2 separate regions of the Homo sapiens genome follow, and region 2 is linked to region 1. The links come from fine-mapping of genetic effects on gene expression. Tissue or cell type: nasal epithelium. Region 1 holds a variant in brackets; the other region holds the start of a gene. All regions are shown on one strand. Distances are from middle to middle.

Region 1 (10,445 bases):
TGTGTCGTCCATATGATGACAGAGGAAGAGCTTGGAGTGATGCAGCTGCCAGCCACAGGATGCCAAGGGCCCATGGGCACCACCAGAAGCTGCTAGAGGGAAGGAAGGATTCCACCCAGAGGCTGCATGACCCTGCTAACACCTTGATTTTGGACTTCTGGCCTCCAGCACTGTGGGAGAATACATTTCCGCTATTTGAAGCCACCTGGTTTGTGAGACTTTATTACAGCAACCCTAGTGACCTCATCCAATACTGCTTCTGTTTGCTCCATCTGTGACTGTGATGAGCCACTGACACTTTAGCTTCTCCCAAGTTCACCAGCCCTCTCTGTTCTCCTCTTTTAAGCCAGATCCCAGATTTTACCTTAATATCCACCCTTACTCTAAAGTCTTCTGCCTCCCTTCCTTCTTCACAGTTTTACGTCAGCATTCCAAGCCGAGATGGCTCCAACTCTCCACTTTCTCTTCTGCCTTGTGGACAGGCCAGCCAGGAAGATGGATTCTGTGATGGTTTAATGTGATGGTTCTGTATGCATCAATATGCTTGGACTACAAGGTGCCCAGACATTTGGTCAAACACTACTCTCAGCATTTCTGTGAAGGTCTTTTTGGATGAAATTAGCATTTGAAGTAGCCGACTGAGTTAAAGCAGGCTGCCCTTCCCCTGTGAGTGGGCCTTGTCCAATCAGCTGAAGGTCTGACTGGAAGAAAAGGGCTGACCCTCTCCCAGATAAGAGGGGATGCCTCCTGCCTGACTGCTTTTGAGCTGGATCATTGGTCTTTTTCTTACCTTTGGATTTGAACAAAAATGTTAGCCCTTCCTGGGTCTTGCACCTACTGGTCTTCCGAAGAGAACTACACCATTGGCTCTCTTAGGTCTCAGGCCTTCAGATGTAGACTAGAACTACACTGTCAGCAATCTTGGGTCTTCAGCTTGCCAACTGCAGACCTTGGGACTTATCAGCCCACCATCATTTCATGAGCCAATTCTTTATAGTAAATTTATGTACCTCTCTCTATCTTTTTATTGGTTCTGTTTCTCTAGAGAACACTGGCTAATGCAGATTCCATCACAACACATGTTGCCATGCTCAGATGGGTGGCATGCTATCCAAAATCTCATTCTCTAAAAAGTGTTTCTTGAGCCTCCTTTGTTTTCTGTAATTCTCTAACCTCCCCATCTATCTCTTGCCCTCAGCAGATGACTGGCGAATGCTACTGATATTCCAACTGCAGCCCCTCTGTTAGTCCATATCCTAGTCCCTTCCTGCTAGAAATGGTGCTGATAGAATCTCACAGCTGCTCCCTTTTCCGCAGAACAGCCCCCAGCCAACAGGAAGCCTTACTGGGCAGGCCACCAACCTCAGGCTTGGCCAATGACTTCCTGATACAAGGGCGTAAATGGCAGGTTCCCTTGCCTCAAGGTAGAACTTGAAGTAGAGACAGTAGCGACTCCCTCATTTAATACCCCTAAAGACCCTGTGGCCACTTACTCAAGTAACCATGCACTAGGGGAAAGTAAGAGATGTTTCTGGTGCTGTTCGATACAGGGTCTGGGTTGATGCTGGTATCCAGGAATCCAAAACATCACCCAGGCTCCCCTGTTATCATTGGCCATATGGGAGTCAGGTAGCAAATAGAGCTCTGGCCCAGGTGTGTCTCATGGTAGTGCACTGAGTCCCCACACCCACCCCACGCTCATTTCCCTGGGCCCTAAATGTTTGTAGGAAGGACACTCTTAGCCATCGGGAGGACCCTCACTCTGCCCCTGACCTGCAGTGTAAAAGTTATTACAGTAGAAAAGACCAACTGGAGCCCTGGAATTTCAACTTCCTGCCAAGATAGGGAATGATTTTCTCTTCTCTTCTCTTACGTGGCTAAGAGAAGGAGGAACGATATTGCATCCCAGGAAAATGGCAAGGGCTAGGGCCATCCTCAGAGTCTTGAAGCATCCAGGAGCAGTGGTGCCTCTCACATGCTATTTGATTCACTAGCCCGATCCTATAAAAATTATATGGATCATAGCAGAAGACCCTGGAACTTTAGAAACATAGCCAAGTGGTAGCCCCACCTGCAGTTGCTGCCTGATGTGGTGTCTGTTCTAGTGCAGATTAACAAAGCCTGAGGCATATTGAGTGCAGCCACTGATTGGCAAGTGGAATTTTAAATTCCATGCCTCTCAGAAAAGGAGATCAGAAGTAGTTTACATTACAGGGGACAAAAACTGGACCAGAATGTCTAGTCCAGACAGCTCAACTAAGGTCCAGACCTGCATATTCAGCTGTGTACCTGACATAACCATGTGGTGACTCACAGACTCTTGAGTTTCTCCCCCAAAGTCTTCTCTTATCACTGGCCCTGTGATTGCCTCAATATCTCAGTAGATAACCCCACCAGCTTCCTTGTTTAGCTCAGCATCACCTTTGATTCCTTTTGCTTCCTTTTTAACCTCATCCATCCATCAATCTGGTATTGAATCTGATCCAAGCTGTATCTCAGCTCTATCTCTCTTCCTGCTTGGCTGCCACTCCCAGCCCAGCCTTCATCACTCTCCTGCCAGATCGTCCCTCAGTGCTTCTCATTGAACTTGGAGGACAATCTGCATTTCCACCATGTCCTCCCTTCATGCTCCAGCCAGCGCATGGTGTATTTGTCACTCTTGACAATCATTTTGTCTGTTGACAAAAGCTCAGCATGAGGCAGAACTGTGTCTGTCCTATTCACTGTTGTATCCCCAGTGGTGTCCAGCTCTTAGAAAGTACTCAATAAAACCTCAATGCCTTAGGACTTAACATATAACGAAAGGATGGCTGAATTACTACCAAAGTACGTTCTTGTGCAACACTCAGATCTGGACAGTACCAGCCACTGTCATGTGATTGAAGCCCTTTTATTCCATGTTTCCAAAATAGTGGGTTGTGAAGTTTAATGCAACCAGAAGTGCAGTGCAAGAGGCCAGAGGGAGGAGAGGCAAACAGCCTAGTGAGGTGCCCCCCTTGAGAACACCTTTTTTCCAGGGTCCACCACGGTGCCAACCTGGACTTTCTGCAGAGGAGCCGCGGCCCTTGGTCAGCCGCAGCCCCCAAGGATCATCACCATTGGGGAAAAACATTCCAGCTGTGGTCTGAGGGCTATAGAGTGAGTTTGTGTGATTGAATCTAGAATCTAAAGGAAGAACTGTCTTGCCTTTTATCCACTTTATATGCCAACGTGTTCGCTTCCAGCCACAATTCCAGACTTTGAGAGCATGCTGAATTTTGATCCTGAAACTAAATAGCATTGTGTCATCACAAAACAGTTAATAATGGCACATGCCGTGTTTTGACTGATGTGTTTGATAGGTGGAGGTGAAGGACAGGCAGTCTGTATCTTGTAGAGATGATTGTATGATGTATGATGACGGTGCCCTATACTCGCTGTGTGACCTTAAGCAAATAACTCAACTTCCTTGTGCCTTCTTTCTAAAATGGCAATGATAGGAGCACCTGTGTCCTCAGGCTGCTGTGAGGAATGAGTTTCCACACACACAGCTGTTAGAACTGTGTTTCACATGTTAAAAGCGCTATTGTGAGAGACAGGAAGAACCAGTCTCTCCTAGTTTCCCACACACACCACTCACCTCTGGTCACCAAAAATGCATGAGGATTTATCCTCACTAGCAACTAATTCTCCAGCAGACACCAGCTGGGCATCCTCTAATTCAATTCAATTCTGACATTGTCTGCCTAGAGAGCGTCAGATCCCACAAGTTAAGGGCTCAGTCCCACAAGACCGCCCCCCTTTCAGATGCAAGTCACAAGCCCTAGGTTGTGACCTGTACTTTTAACCAACTGGCTATAAATTGGGGTTTCCTGTGACCCATTCCTCAGGTTTGATTAATTTGCTTGAGCGGCTCACAGAACTCAGGGAGATACTTGTCTTACGATGACCCATTTATTATAAAGGATGTTACAAAGGATAGAGATGAGCAGCCAGATGGGAGAGATGCGTGGGAAAAGGTGTGGGGAGGCGACAGGGAGCTTCCATGCCCTTACTGATGGCACCTCCCCACCTCCAGGCATCCCCACATGTTCAGCTGCCTGCAAGCTCGCCAAACCCTGTCCCTTTGGGTTTTTATGGAGACTTCATTACATAGGCATGGTTGATGACATCACTGGCCATTGGTAATCAACTCAACCTCCAGCCCATCTCCTCTCCTCAAAGGGTGGGGATCAAAGTTCCAGCCCTTTACTCACATGCTTGGTTACCCTGGCAACCAGCCCCCCACCCTGGGGCTATCGAGGAGCCCACCAAGAGTCACATCATTAGAAGAGGAAATGCCCCTATCACCCTGGAAATGCCAAGGGATTCAGGAGCTGTGTGTCAGGAACCAAGAGGAAAAGACTAAATCGATTAGAACAAAAGATTCTCCTAGCACCCCTATCTACCAGGGTTTTAGGATTCTTATCTCAGGAACTGAGAGCAGAGATCAAAATATACTTCTTGTCACATCACAAATCACAGATATGTAAGCATGTGCTGTTGTTTTTAGTATTATAGTAACATTACCTCTATCACGTTAGAGATTGTGAAATGTCATGTCAGAGACTTCAGATAACCTGTCCCAATCCCAGCACTGGAACAGCAGAGTCAGGGTTGCATGCTGTTTCCTCTGGCCCCGCAGCTCATGCCACTTCCAATATGAGATGTCTAGGTTAGCTGATATCTCCCTCTCTTTATCTGTCCTTCATTTGGGCTTTGTTTTCACATCTAAGGGCGGAGAGAATCAAGAGAATCTGTTCCCCCATGACAGGCATTCAGGCATTTCAAGGGAGTGTTCATGAATCCCTGATCCAGATGGTCTCTGCTCCAGGCTAACCAGCCCCTCCCTTTAAGGAGACTTTGTTGGCTCAGGCAGAGTCTAATCCTCCCTGATCCCTCCATATTTCTCTCACCTGACATGTACTCTGTCTGCAGCGCTATGGGTTCCACCACAAAACAGATCCCGCGGCTGCCTGTTTTCATTACTCTACTCTCAGCCAGCCAAGATGCCTTCCCACCAGCTCTCACAGCCTCCACCCTTGTCCCCCGCAAACCGATCGCACTCAGCAACAAAGGTGATCATTTTCAGTGTCAATCAGAGCATGCTGCCACCCTTCCTAAAGCCCTCCAGTGGCTTCCCATTTTCCTCAGAATTAAAACCCAGGGACCGGGAGTGGTGGCTCAAGTCTGTAATCCCAGCACTTTGGAAAGGTGAGGCGGGTGGATCACCTGAGGTCAGGAGCTCGAGACCAGTTTGGCCAACATGGC[A/G]AAACCCCGTCTCTACTAAAAATACAAAACTTAGCCAGGCGTGGTGGTGCGTGCCTGTAACCCCAGCTACTCGGGAGGCTGAGACAGGCGAATTGCTTGAGCCCAGGAGGTGGAGGCTGCAGTGAGCCGAGATCGCACCACTGCACTCCAGCCTGGATGACACAGTGAGACTCTGTCTCCAAAAATAAAAACAAAACAAAAAACAAAATAAAACAAAAAAACAAAACAAAACAACAACAACAACAAATCCCAAACCACTTGGCCCATAACATCCCAGTAATCTGATCCCTGCTTTGATCACCATCATCTCCCTTCTCTGACCCCCTTTTCACCTTGCCCCGGCAACACGGCTGGCTTTCTGACAATTCCTTGTGCATGCCTCAGGGCCTTTGCTCTTGCTTTCCCCTATGCCTGGATTATTCTGCCCCAGATCAGAGGCTCCTTCTCAACATCCAGGTCTCTGCTCTGTTATCACCTTTACAGAAAGGCTTTCCATGACCATGCTCTCAAAAACAATCACACTACACCCCTTAACTCTCTATCCCTGGACCATAAGATGTCTTCTTGTATCACTTAGTACTACTTGATATATATAACTACTCTTGGAGAGCTGTCCTCCTCTCTAGAATGCATACTCCCTGTGGGAGGAGAGATCACCTCTGATCTGCCCCATGTATAATCAGCACAATATTGGCACAGCCTAGGAACTGGTGGGGCAGGCATATTAGTGCTTCCCACCTGCTCCCAAAAATATCCACATCTGAATCCTAGGAGGCTGTGAATATGTCACCATACCTGGCAAAGGGAAATTAAGGTGGCAGAGAGAATGAGTGTTGTAAATTGGCTAACCTTAAAACAGGGAAATCATCATCACTTTGGGAGGCTGAGGCGGGTGGATCAAGAGGTCAGGAGATCGAGACCATCCTGGCTAACATGGTGAAACCCTGTCTCTACTAAAAAATACAAAAAAAATTAGCCAGGCATGGTGGCAGGCACCTATAGTCCCAGCTATTCGGGAGGCTGAGGCAGGAGAATGGCGTGAACCCGGGAGGTGGAGCTTGCAGCGAGCCTAGATCGCACAACTGCACTCCAGCCTGGGCGACAGAGCAAGACTCCGTCTCAAAAAACCAACCAACCAACCAACAAACAACAAACAGGGAGATCATCCTGGTTTATTTGGGTGGATCCACTGTCATCACAAGGGCCCTTAAAAGCAAGAGAGGAGCTCAGCCTGGTGGTCATGCCTGTAACTCCAGCATTTAGGAGGTGGAGTATTGCTTGAGGCCAGGAGTTCGAGACCAGCCTGGGTAACATACAGAGATCCCGCCCCTAAAAAATTTTAAAAATTATCTCGGCATGGTGGTGCATGCCTGTAGTCCTAGATACTCTAGAGGCTGAGGTGAGAGGATCACTTGAGCCTGGGAGATCAAGGCAGCAGTGAGCCGTGATGGCTGAGCACTCCAGCCTGGGTGACAGAGTGAGACCGTGTCTCAAAAAAAAAAAAAAAAAAAAAAGGTGGGAGAGGAGACAAAAGAGAGTCAGAGAGATGTGTCAGAAAGATGTGACATGGAAAGGACCCAGCTCACCCTTGCTGGTTTTGAAGATAGAAGAAGCCATAGGCCAAGAAACCCAGACAGCCCCTAGAAGCTCTAAAAAAATCAAACAAACAGACCCCACCCAGAGCCTCCAGAAAGGAACAGCCCTGCTGACATCCTGTTTAGTCCAGTGAGACACAGTTCTAATTTCTCCAGGGCTGTAGGATAATGAACCTGTGCTGTCTAAGCCACCAAGTTTGTCGGAATCTGTTACAGCAGCCACAGGAAACTACTTCAGCACTAACAATGATTTGCTGAAGGAATGAATAAGTGAATGAATGGAGACAATAGCGAGGGACCCTGCCACATCAGCCAGGGCCCCTGTAACCTCTGTGTCTGTCCTAGTGTGCGGTGTCCAAGGGGCCCAAGCCCATCCATGCCGTTGATTGGAGCCACATCTGCCCTCTCCTTTCTAGTGCCCCTACTAGGATAGCCAGAGGACTCACTAGTTTGATTCAAGGTAGCCACATTGCACTTGCCTCGTATGGAATCGGTCATACATTAAGATGCTCAACTGGAAATTCATGTGCCCCTGGAGCCACGTGTTGCCCAACCCGCTTCTGTGCCTCTGGTTGTGTGTGTGTTTGCTTTCCTGAGGTTAAGGTACATTCATCTCAATGCAGCTCTACTTTTCAATTTTTCTTTGTTTTTTAACATCATCCAAAGACAAGAGAGAAGAAAAGCAAGAGAGAGGAACATCAAAGGAAACTTAACCTTTTTCAATCACTTGAATATGTCATTCCCATGGATTCGTACAACTTTGTTGTAATCTCTCCACTTACAAATGAAGAAACCAAAATATTATTTATTTGTTTAGTACCTAATTCATTTTTCCCACTTACTCATGAACTCTTTTAGTAAACCTTTACTGAGGAAACGAGGCATTGTGTTCTGAACATCACACATGACTGCTACTGCCTGGATGTGTCCCAATTTTCAAAAGGTTAAAATGTGAAGTCATGCACATCTTATAGTCAGAACAATAGGATAATTCTTAGCAGAGAGACAGCCAGTCTGGCATCCTAGTTCTCTGTACTGGGCTCCTCTAGAAAGTTTATCAGATTGCTCCTGATATTTAAAACAACAACAACAACAGCTGCAGCAAGAAAACACAGATGGCCACTCACCACCTCGGGTCTTGCACTGACTTGGTGCTAGAACTCTTCATGGGCAGAGCGTCTGATTCATGCCCACACAGCAATGTAATTTAAGCCACACATTCATGTCCATGAAGCTCCCATTGGCTAGACTCCTGGTCCTACCTCCAAGGTAAAGCTGGTTTCTAAAGAATTTCTCCAACGTGTTCTGGCCTTGCCAGTAATATTTTCCCCCAAGCTCTTTTTCCAGTTCATCAAAAAGGTTCCTGTTGGCCAGGCACGGTGTTTCATACCTGTAACCCCAGCACTTTGGGAGGCTGAGGTGGGAGGATCGCTTGAGCCCAGGAATTTGAGATCAGCCTCGGCAACATAATGGGGCCCCATCTCTACAAAAAACACAAAAAGGTTCCTGTTGCCTCTTTAGGGCTCCCTCCAAATCACCTTTTGTGAGATCCCAATCACCTTTTGTGAGATGAGAAGTTAGTTTCCACAATGATGAAGTGTTTCCTCCTCCTAACACAAGAGTTTCTCAGCCTTGGCACCATGACATTTTTGACTGGATACTTCTGTTGCAGGGCCTGTCCTATGCACTCTAGGATGCTGAGCAGTGTCCCTCACCTGTGCCCACCAGATGCCAGCAGCACCCCCATTCAGTTGTGACAACCAAAAATGTCTCCAGACATTGCCAAATGTCCCCTGGGGGGCATAATAGCCCCAGGGTTATTTCTAACTCTAGTGTTCTATTTTAGTTAGACCAGGTGCTCTGTATTGCCCCTGGCAAGGTTGAATATCCTGTGCTTCTGTGACACTCATTGTCTGCTCAGGGTTTTCAAAACAAGCCAGAGTGGTGATATGGTTTGTTCGTGTCCCCACCCAAATCTCAACTTGCACTGTCTCTCTCAGAATTCCCACATGTTGTGGGAGGGACCCAGGGGGAGGTAATTTAATTATGGGGGCCAGTCTTTCCTGTGCTACTCTAGTGATAGTAAGTCTCATGAAATCTGATGTGTTTATCACGGGTTTCTGCTTTTGCTCCTTCTTCATTCTCTCTTGCAGCTGCCATGTAAGAAGTCCTTTTCACCTCCCGCCATGATTCTGAGACCTCCCCAGCCATGTGGAACTGTAAGTCCAGTTAAACCTATTTTTCTTCCCAGTCTCAGGTATGTCTTTATGAGCAGCGTGAAAACAGACTAATACAAGTGGGATGCTTTGTTTATGACTGTGCTGAGTAAGAGGCCAGTTTTTATCATGGTAGTGTTTCATCAGGGTTCTCCAGAGAATTGGAGCAGGGTGTGTGTGTGTGTGTGTGTGTGTATGTACACAGAGAGAGATTTTTTAAGAAATTGACACACACGACCAGGTGCAGCAGCGCATACCTGTAATCCCAGCATTTTGGGAGGCCAAGCAGGGAGTATCAGTTGAGCACAGGAGTTCTAGACCAGCCTGGGCAACATAGTGAGATCTCATCTCTACAAAAAATACAAAAAATTAGCCAGGTGTGATTGAGTGTACCTATAGTCCCAACTGCTGGGGAGGTGGAGGTGGGAGACTCATCTGAGCCCAGGAAGTGGAGGCTGCAGTGAGCCATGATTGTGCCACTGCACTCCAGCCTGGGCAACAGGAGTAAGACGCTGTCTCAAAAAAGAAAAATTTGTGCACATGATTGTGGAAGCATGGTAAATCCAAAACCTGTAAGACAGGCTGGAGTTCCAGGGAAGAGCCATAGCCCAAGTTCAAAGGTTATCTGCTGGCAGAATTCCTTCTTGCTTAGGATAGGGTCAGTCTTTGTTCTAGTAAGGCCTTCAAATGATTGGATGACGCCAGCTCATGTTATAGAGGGCAATCCGCTGTATTCAAAATCCACAGATTTAAATGTGAGTTTCATTTAAAAAAAAAAAAAAAAACCTTCACAGAAACATCCAGATTAATGTTTGACCACATATCTGAACACTGTGGCCCAGCCAAGTTGATACATTAAAAATAACCATCATAGGCAGCAATGGACAAATTCATTTATTAACAAGAGACGGGTGTGTGTGAGTTCATCTAGAATTTGGGCCAGGTTTCCATAGTTACTGCCTGAAACGTCAGTGTTATAGATGCCGGAGTGAGGCCACCTGTGGTTCTCATCCCTGGTCATGACAACCACATGGAGAGCTGTGAAAAGATGCTGAGGTCAAGGTACCCTCAGAGCGTCAAAGTCATTTAGTCGAGGGTGGGGTCAGGCATCGATAGAGATTGTTAGAGAACCTGCAACGTTCCTCCATGCAGCCAGGGTTCAGAACCTCTGAGCCGAGCAAATCCTCCCTCCAGGATGGTGACTTGGGGAGGTGAGCATGGGCTTTGCAGGGAGGTGGGCTGGATTTGAGTCTCACTTCAAGTTAGTAATGGGATGCTGGTACTGCCATTTCACCTCCCTGAAACTCTTGATAAATAAGATGCTGCCTAGAATGCATGCAGCCCC
Region 2 (10,445 bases), 64 kb before region 1:
CCGAAGTTTTTTCTTTCCTTCTTGTTCTTCTTTCTTTCCTGCTTCTTTTTGAAAGCTCATAGGAAAAAGGGTCTAAAAGACATTTGTTCTATCTCTGTGGTTTTGTAAAAGGTCCATCTTGGAATGCAGCTTATTTTTAGTTAAGGAAATTCAGAGATCAATTAGTTATATGTTCGAAGGGTCAACTCCCCAGATTAGTCAAAGCAACAAGAAAGGGGATAATGGATAAAATATAAAACTGCCAAACAGAGAATCTCAGTTGCCTCCACTAGGAAAGGACTTCCCAGAAGATCCACTGCAACCTCATCCAGGCTTTCTCCAAAGCAGGCAGGGCCTCTGAAACCCAAATCCTAGATCTGTACTTTATTAATTAAGAACACAAATAACAACAATGACAATAATACCATCAGCATTCCTGGAGTGGGGCACTAAGTGCCTGGAACTACACTAAGTACTTCAATACGTAGAACATCGTTTATTTTATTTATTTATTTATGTATTTACTTTTGAGATCGAGTTTTGCTAACGTTGCCCAGACGGGAGTGCAATGGGTGATCTCGGCTCACCGCAACCTCCATCTCCTGGGTTCAAGTGGTTCTCCCACCTCAGCCTCCCGAGTAGCTGGGATTACAGGTATATGCCACCATGCCCAGCTAATTTTGTATTTTCAGTAGAGACAGGGTTTCTCCATGTTGGTCAGGCTGCTCTCAAACTCCTGACCTCAGGTGATCCGCCCGCCTCGGCCTCCCAAAGTGCTGGGATTACAGGTGTGAGCCACCGTGCCCGGCCCATTTAATTTTCACATCACCCAACAAGGGAGGCCTTACTGCTAAGTTGCCACGCCAGGTGGGAAAGAGGCCAAGACTGTGAGGTCAATGGTTGCTGCAGTGGTCCCTGATTTGTACCCCCTCCCTGGATCGACATCCTTGGGGAGTTAGTCCTCTCTGACATTTATTCTGCACGTGGCCATGGGACTTGCTTGGGCCAAAGGGACACCAGCAAACGTGCATGCAAAGTGCTTGCACATTGTGCACATTGGGACTTTCTCCTTTGGCTGCTGTTGGAAGCCCAAGAACTTTATGCAAGGCAGCCCAGGCCCCCCTGGCCCAGGGTGGGAAGCCAAGAAATGAGCTGGCCCACTGACAGCCCGTGAGACCAGGCCACCTGCTAACACCCAAACACAGGCGTGAGACCATCCCAGGTCATCCAGCCACTGACCAACCTGAAGCCACCGCAGACACATGAGAAGGCCCAGCAGAGATTGGCAGAGCTGGCCCAGAGCAGAACTGCCCAGCCGACCCACAGAAGTGAAAGCACAGGAAAATGGTTACTATTTGAAGCCATTAAGTTTTGTTTTGTTTTTTAAGAGACAGGGTTTCGCTCTGTAGCCAAGGCTAAAATGCAGTGGTGCCATCATGGCTTAAGTTTCGGGGTTTTTAAATACATCAAACCTAACCTATACAGATAAATTAATGAAATTAATGGAAGCAAGTGAGAGCATTCAGGCAGTCTGACTCCATAGTCTTCACCCTTAACCACTTTCCTGCTCCAGCTTTCTGAGCATTAGGGCCCCCATTTGTAAAATGAACATGAGAAAACAGTCTTTCATTACAGGAGGAGATCAAAAAAAATGAAAAGCATGAACACAGTTGGTCAGTTATAAAACATTACATAGACACCAGCCATTATTCTTATGGATAAACTCTCAATAGCCATCAATAGAAGGAGTCTATTCAAGTAGTATAGACAAATGAATAGACAAATGATTGAGGAGTCATTTCATCTTGAGTTTGGACTATTAGAGAGGCCTAGATTATTCCCCTCCAGCAGGGCAACAAAAGTAAGTGAAGCCTCCTCTTCTCAACCTTACTTCCAGGCCCCCACTCTCCTGCTCACCTCTCCCTGAGACATTTTTATTGTTCATCTCACTCAGCTGAACAACCTGGTACCCTCAGCTTTTAAGACATCGACAAGGAAGGGAATTAGCCTTTAAGAAGCTCATGCTAGGTTCCAGGCAGTACATATGTGTATATGTGTGTGTGTGAGAGAGACAGAGAGAGAGAGAGAGACAGAGTGTGTGTTTCCGTTCAGCCTTATTATAGCCTTTTGAAGTAGGTATTATTACCACCATTTTACAAATGGGAAAACCAAGGCTCAGAGCCATTAAGTAACTTGCAGCAGAACTGAGATCCAAACTCAGGGATTTCTAATCCTAAGGCTTGCAATCTTTCCACAAATGCCTAAAAGTGATACTTTATGGATTTGCCTATTTAGAAAGAGAGCAGCGTTTGTCTGACAATATATCTTGAGTCTCCTACTCTCACTCCCATAGCCAGCATCTGTCCCCTTCTCTGCAGCTCCCCACCTAGCCCAGTCCCTTCCCCTGAACAGCTGGCTCCTCTGATTCCACTCCTGGCTTCCCCTCATACTCCATTACTGGAACAAACCAGTCCATGTCACATTCATCTCAACCCTCCCTGCATACTCGGCACAGGCACACAGTCCTCGCCGTGGCCTACAAGGTCTTATGTGATCTGGCCCCAGCTCCTCTTTGGCGTCATCAGCACCCACACATCTCCTTGCTCTTTCCCAGACGTGCCATGCCTCCTTCCGCCTCTGAGACATAATACTCTTCTCTCTGCTGGGAACAGTTCTCACCCTTGGCTCCTCTGGTCTCTGCTCAGGTTTCCTTCTCTGAGCAGTCTTCCCTGATTGGCCTTTCTAAAACAGCCCTCACCACCCTCCTGTCCTGCTTTGTTTTCTTCCTAGGACATGCTACTGTCTACCTTATGTATCTGTCTGCCCACTAGAATGTAAGCTCCAGGGACAGGGTCTTGTTAATCATTGTGTCTCCATCCTATAGTGTGCCAGCCCTCGCAGGTGCTCTACAAATGCCTGGCGAGTAAATGAAATAACGAATGAGTCAGAGGCCCAGAGAAGAAACCCCATCCTCATAAAAGCCCCATGAAAACCACAAATAACCTTGGAATATTAACATTATGATGAAGGTGACCAAACAGAAGGCATGACATGCTGAAGACCATCCAGGTCTTTGGGGTAGACTGCGGACCCTGCCCAGCATTCCTCAATTAGGGGCTAGAGCATCATGAATGGGATGGTTCATCCCACAGGACTGTCCCACTTTATGCAGAGTTCCAGCATCCTTGGTCCCTGCCAAGTCAATGCCAGCAGAGAGCCCCAGTCATGTGACAGCCCCAAACACTTCTCACATTTTGGGACACCCCCAAGGAGTATGTTACTGTTCCCTCCCCGTCATGGTGAACTCTCACCTCCATCTATGCCCATGATGAAGCGTCCCACGATGAGCATTTCAAAGGCTCCTGCCTGGAGCGAGCAGGCCATCAGCAATGCAGCAGAAATTGCAAACCCATTATTGGCCAGCAAAGTGTGCTTCCTGGAAAGAAAGGAAAGATTTGATGAAGATGTCTAACCATGAGGCATGTCACTGAACTGTCCATCCCAGGAGCAGGAGCCAGGCCCTTCTGAAGGGTGAGTAGAGCAAGACTCAGGCACAGTGCAGGGAGCACTGGCCTTGCCACCTCTGGCTGTGTGACTGGGTTCAGCCCTGGGGTCTACTAGGTCACTTACAAAGGCACCATCAGCCTTGACATCTATGAATTCTCTGTGGTAGTATTTTATTGCTTTAATTCTAAGACTATCATTTAACATTTCTGAAGTCAGTGGTCATCTTACAATTCGTGAGTCAGGGTCCAGGCAGGAAAATGGAAACCACTCTAGGTATTTTAATGGAGAGAATTTAACATAGGGAATTGGTTAAGTGGATATTGAAGAACCGAGATGTCAAAAAGGAAGACCTCTGAAGAAGGGGTGTTTCCCATGTGGTGCTGACACCTCAGGGGCATGGAGGAGGGCCCCGAAGACCTTTGAGAGTGGGCACTGTCCACTGGACTGTTTCCTCTGAGGAGCAATATGATTCTGGTTCTGGAAATGGACAAAAGTTGGAAGCTGGAATCAACTGCCAATGTCATCACTGGGACTGGCAGGAAACTCAGACAAACATGAAAAAGCTAGTCTTTTCTCTCTCCTCTAGTGCCCCTATTGGCAAAGGACAAATGGGGGTGCAGGCCCCAGCCCCAGCATCAGAGAGAGAGAGCCCAGAAGGGTAAGTGTGGAGCTAGGAGACAACAGCTTGACAACCAGCATAGCGTTCTACAACTTTTGTTGGCTCCTTCCCTCCCTCCCTCCCTTTCTTCCTTATTTCCTTTCCTTTCCAGTGGCTCATAAAATAACAATACTCCTCAGACCCAATGGCATCTTAGATTTGATGAACTACAGTACTAAGTGAATGGCTGGACTAATCCTCTCAAACAAGATTAGGGAAATTTCCATGGCAATAATTATTATTAACAGCTCTGTGTCAGGACTGCCATCACTTTTATAAACACATGCCTAAGACCTCATGGTTCAAATACCTGACTTGTTTGGAGGCCTGGGGACCTGGATTCCTGCACCAGCTCTATCCTTCAGGAGCTAGGAGACTTTGAACTTCATTTCTCTGTGTTTTCTTTTCCTCACTTTTGCAAAATGATCCTAAAAGCCCACATTTATTGAACTCTTGCTATAGGATAGACCCTGCTTTAAGTACTTTGCATTAGTAGCTCATTTAATCCTCAGAATGACCCAAAGAGATAGGTACTCTTATAATCTCTATTTTATAAACAAGTTAACTAGGTTGCTGGCAAGCTAGAAACTTGTTTTATTTTTAATTTTTATTTTTGAGACAGAGTCTTGCTCTATCACCCAGGCTGGAGTGGATTGGCACAATCTCTGCTCACTGCAGTTTCCACTTCCCAGGTTCAAGTGATTCTCCTCCCTCAGCTTCCTGGGTAGCTGGGATTACAGGCATGCACCACCACACCCAGCTAATTTTTGTATTTTTAGTAGAGACGGGGTTTCACCATGTTGGCCAGGATGGTCTCAAACTTCTGACCTCAGGTGATCTGCCTGCCTCAGCCTCCCAAAGTGCTGGGATTACAGGCGTGAGCCACTGCGTCCGGCCTAGAAACTTGTTTTAGGTCATATAGTCAGTGAGTCAAGGAGTTGGGGAAACATCTTAGCCCTTTACGGCTTATTTTTTTTCCTATAGACTCAATGAGTTAACAGATATTAAATTGTTTTGTAAATTGTGGTTAAAAAATTATTTTGCCCAATAGAGCCCCAGTGGGTCTCTGATCTTAGAACTTGCGCTCTTCCCACCAGCTAACATTGCCTCTTGTCATAAATTATGGGACTCAGTTATGGCAGATGCTATTATACTCATTATATAAAAATATAAGTTTTTTTCTCTAAACCAGCCTCTCGGGAGACTGGGGCAGGAGAACTGCTTGAACCCAGGAGGCAGAGATTGCAGTGAGCCAAGATCATGCCACCGCACTCCAACCTGGGTGACAGAGCGAGACTCCGTCTTGAAAAAAAAAGAAAAGAAAAAGAAAGAAAGAAACATCAGTGAGGCCAGCCTGGCTGGAGGCAGTAGGGAGCCAGGGAGCAAGCAGTAGAAAGTGAAAGTTGAGAAGAGAAAAGAAGAACTCAGAGAGTCTTCTATGCCACCATAAGAACTAGCGTTTCCCCCCTGGGGGAGATAGCAGCCACTGGGAGATTCCAAGGAGAGGAATGACACCGGCTAATACTTGAACAAGATCACTACATCTTGTCTTCTCTGTTGCTCCTGGACTGCAGGGGACAAGTGTGAAAGCAGGGAGACCAGCTGGGGAGCTACCACAACAGGTGAGTCAACCACTGGTAATGATTTGGACCAGGCTGGGAGCAGTGCACTTAGTGAGAAGTGGTCAGATCCTAGCATATTTTGAAGAGTGAGTTGGTGGGATTTGCTGATGGACTGGACAGAGGTGGAGAGGCATAGAGGAGCCAAGGATGCCTCCAAAAGCTTTGGTCTGAACCCTTACTTTGGACATGATGGTGTATTTTGTGCTAATTTTAAAACTGCATGAAAGGTTTGTGAGAATGTTAAAATTATATGAAAGTCTGACTTGAAACATGTGCAAACGGGAGTGCACACTCTCTGGGCAAGTTTATCATATTAATATATTCCTTCCCAAAATAACCCTCAGCCTGACAGCATTGCAGTGAGGATGGAAATGTGTGCAAATCCTTTGCAAAGCTGACTCACTGGGCTTCAGAGCAGGACTTTAATCATTGTTTCCATTTGTTTCCTGTGGATGAACAGCAACATAAACAAGGGAGATCAATTCTGAAAGCAGAACTCCAGTGTCCCCAGAACTCCACCTAGGATGCCTGATTCATTGTTTTTAGCTTCTCCAATAGTGTAGAATCTTCCCCATGAAACCCAGAAAGTCATCAGCTCTCAAGGGGAAAAAAAGACCAAATACAAGGAAGCATGGTAGGGTGATGAGGAGATTGGAGGGCATGTCCCTTCAGAAGTGTCAAAGGGGCTGGAGACATTTCGCCTGGACAAGAGGTCAGAGAAAGCAGGAGAGCCACCTTCCTTCATGCCATGCTTTAACTTGGTGCAGAGCACCAGGACGGATTGGGGGAAGACATAGGGAATTCTATTTCAGTTTGAATTTGGAAAGTACTTTTCATTAAACCCTAGTAGACCAGAGAACCTATGGAAATAATGTATCTCTCCACAGACCTTTCCAGTAAATCTTCAGCCTGACTGGGCCTATAAGCCAAGATCATGCCTTGTTTCCACATCCCTCACCCTCCTCGTGTTCATCCGTTCCTGCATACCCAGCTTGAATTCCTTGGCTCATCCCTTTAAATATTTATATGCCCATCCACCCCCTTTCATTACATATGCCTGGCAAAACCCCAGCTGGTTAAATCTCTGTCTACTGGGCATCTACAAAGCTCAGCTTGGCTGGAGAAAAACATATGGCTGTGTTGTCCTTTCTCACCTGAAATTCATGACCACCAACCTCAAGAAGGGTTAAGGCTCCCCTGCACTGAGTCTACAGATTCCTGGTCCATCCAACACCCTTCTCTCCTAGAGGACTATTTCATATGTTTTCTCTCTCTCTTCAAATCCCCTTTTTATCATTCTCAGCTGATGACCATGCTTTCTTTTTCACTGAGAACACAGAGGCAATCCCAAGAGACCCTTCCCACATGCCCTCTGCTTGTATTTCTGCACCTGCATCTGTGCCCAGACACCTGCCTTCCCTTGTTTTCCAACCCTGGTGCAAACCATGTCCTCTCTCACCTGCGCTATTGCAAGGTTCTCCCAACCAGGCTCTGAGACCCCCTGATAACAGCACACCTTTCCAAATGCAAGTCAGATCAGTTCTTAAAACGTTCCACTGACTTCCCATTTTGCTCAGAGGAAGAGTCTCAACCCTCGCCTGCAAAGTCCTCAGGATCTGACTCCAAATATCCCATCTAGCTTCCTATGATTATCTCTACACTGACCTCCACTCTCATCTTCAAAGAAGTGGAGCCTCTTCTTGCCCCTGGGCTTTTGCACCTGCTGCCTCCTCTGCTTGGAGAGCTATTTCCCAGGGATGAGCGTGCTCACTCCCTTGCTTCCTTCAGTGCTCCCTGCACAAGTCACCATTTTAGAGAATCCTCTGAACAAAGTGGTGAGCTCTTCACCCTCCCCAGCATCTTCTGACCTCCTTGAGCTGCTCTGTTTTCTACATTGGTCCTTGTCACAGGCCGAATGGCACAGTCTGCATGCTTGTTACTTGGCTGTGCTCCCCGCTTGGCTGCATGCTTCAGGAGGACAGGGACTTTGGCAGCTTTGCTCATGCCTGAGTGCTTGGCACATAGAAAGTACTCAACAGATATGTGGTGAGTAAATAATCGGATGAGGGAACGGAAAGTGTGCAAGCATACAAGGATGCTTAGATGCAAGCAAGGATGGCCACACTGGGGAGATGTGATAGAAAAATTCAAGCATCGAGCATTTTCCACCCATCCTTCCATTTATCCAACAAATGTCTACTGCTTGCCTGCTGTGTACAAGCTGCTGTGTTGGGTGCTAGGGGCCATAAATACATATGGTTCTTACGTTGAAGGGCTCCCTTATCAGGGAAGAGACGGGAACATAATGAAATGAGTACAACCCAAAATGCCAAGTGACGTAACACAGGGAACTGAAAGTCCTGTGTGAGCTCAGAGAAGGCCAATATTTAGTTCTGGTAGATATGTCCTAGGCAGTGGGGGATGGGGTTGAAGATTTCTTATGATTTCTAACCCTGCTTTCCCGGCTCATGCGTCTGTAATACCAAAGGGGTTGTGTCCATAATAAAACAAACCAGTGATGCAGGGACAGCTTGTACCATTGAAGCCTCTTGTTTTGGATGTGTTGACTCTTTGTTTTACACTTTGGAACCCTGCCGTCCCGAAGTCTTCTGGTCTTATCTACCATGCCCAGGCTTTCTCCTTATGTCCCATCATGAACCCAAGTTTCCTTCTTCCAGAGTTCTTGCCATTCTCACTATGCTTAGAAGACTAGTCAAGTCTTCTAAGGCTGGGAGAAGCAGGGTTGAGGATCAGGTTTCCTGGCTGGCTGGTTATCTCCCTATCCCCTCAGGGATTCCCCCAGCTCAATGAATGCTGGCTTCTAAAGGCTCAGGGTTGACTCTTCTCCAGAAGATTGACATTGGCTCTGAAGGTGGATCCCCCTTTCCCAGTGCTGCCTGCAGCGAGTGACAGATGAGTGGTAGGGGTGGATGCAGCCCCCTTACTTCAAGTTGGGTGACTCTGTGGTGTGATTATGCCCCAGAGCTCCCCCAAGTGAGGCTAAACTTGACCAGGGAGTGCAGCCTTGCCTGGCTCCTTCCCCTGCTGCTTTCTGCTTTCCCCACCTTAAAGATTACTCCTGAAGAGCCCTTCCTCCACAAGCCATGTGTGCATCCCAATCCCTGCCTCAGGCTCTGCTTCTGGGCAATTGACTTTCTGAGACAATTCCAGCCTGAAAGAAGAGGTTGTCAGCAGCACGGTGTGTTGCTCAGTCATGGACTAAACTATGTTCCTGCCCCCTGGTTGAGAACCCTTGAACGCATGTAACCTCGCTCGGGCCAAGGAGATTCATGCCTGGGACTTTAACTACAATGATTGGAAGGAGAATTTCCATCAAGCTGGGGCCATCTTGCACCTCCACAGAAGAAACTGCCTGACAATGAAGCCAACAAAAAACAAGCTGAGCTGAGAGGTGGAGAAAGAGAGAGATTTGGATTTTTTTAAGGCTCACCTGTTAAAGCCCTAACCCCTAATGTGACTGCATTTGGGGACAGGGCCTTTAAAGAGATAATTAAACTAAAATGAGGTCACAAGGAAGCGGCCCTAATGTGGGATGATTGGTGTCCTTGTAAGAAGAGGAAGGGACACCAGGGATGCACACACACAGGGAGCACACAGCGAGAAAGCAGCCATCTGCAAGCCATGGAGAGAAGCCTCGGGAGGAAAAGACCTGCCGACACTTTGATCTTGGCCTTCCAGCCTCCAGAACTGTGAGAAAATGAATGTCTGTTTGCTGAAGCCACTCCATCTGTGGTATTCTGATATGGCAGCCTGGGCTAACCAATGCATGCTTGCCACATACACTGAAGGCTCCTCCAGCAGGCACCTAGAGAGACACAGTTATTTTCTACTACTATAAAATACAGATGCCTTTTAAAGGGTTGAAGTAGAAAATGATGAAAGCAAAAATAGTCCTTTTGACAACCTGCTATTTCCCTGGAGTGATGTATGGGATGCCTGTTGTTTGTGCTCACCGAACCTCCATCCTTCTTCTGGGAGGAGTTCCTCAAATTTCCACCAAGAAACCTTCCTGCCTGTCTCCACCTAACCATGGCTTCAGGAGTGGATGCGTGGTACAGGCCTGGCCAGTCAACATAAAATCACTCATCATTCTCAAGGCATTTAAGATGTGCTTTTTTAAAAGCACTTAATCCAGAGTGTTAGAATGTTATTTGCCAGGATTTTCTAACCTTGGCACTATTCACATTTGGAACTGGAAAATTCTTTGCTGTGGGGGTTGTCCCGTGCATTGTAGGATATTTAGAGGCATCCCTGGCTTCTCCTAGATGCTAGTAGCACCCTTGAGTTATGAAAACCAGAAACATCTCCTGGCATTGTCAAATGTCCCCTGATGAGGCAACATTGCCCTCTGGTTGAGAACCCTTGAACGCATGCAACCTCGCTCAAGTCAAAGAGATTCATGCCTGGGACTTTAATCACAACTATCGGAAGGAGAATTTCCACCAAGCTGGGCCCATCTTATACCTCCATGGGAGAGATTGCCTGACAATGGAGCCAACACAAAGCAAGGTGAGCTGAGAGGTGGAGACAGATTTGGATTTTTTAAAAGCTATCATCTGAGCCACTGGATTCAACCAAGTTATATTTTAGTTATTGTGAGCCAAGTAATTCCCTTTTGGGCTTCAGCCAGTTTGCTTTGGGTTCCTGTCACAGGCATT

The links. PIP is the estimated chance that this variant, and not a neighbour inherited with it, causes the effect.
Region 2: it holds the start of SLC2A9-AS1, and the variant in region 1 is fine-mapped to the expression of SLC2A9-AS1 in nasal epithelium (TOPMed, PIP 0.94).

What each region holds. Positions count from the first base shown.
Region 1 is chr4:10,046,822-10,057,266 of GRCh38, forward strand. No RefSeq gene overlaps it. Among named protein-coding and RNA genes, the nearest start is that of MIR3138, 27 kb to the right of the region's middle. The variant A/G (reference allele first, on the strand shown) is at 5,290.
Region 2 is chr4:9,982,379-9,992,823 of GRCh38, forward strand. SLC2A9-AS1 (SLC2A9 antisense RNA 1) reads left to right here and starts at 5,745. Exons shown (of 4, transcript NR_183862.1): 1 at 5,745-5,766. SLC2A9 (solute carrier family 2 member 9) reads right to left here. Exons shown (of 12, transcript NM_020041.3): 4 at 3,291-3,415.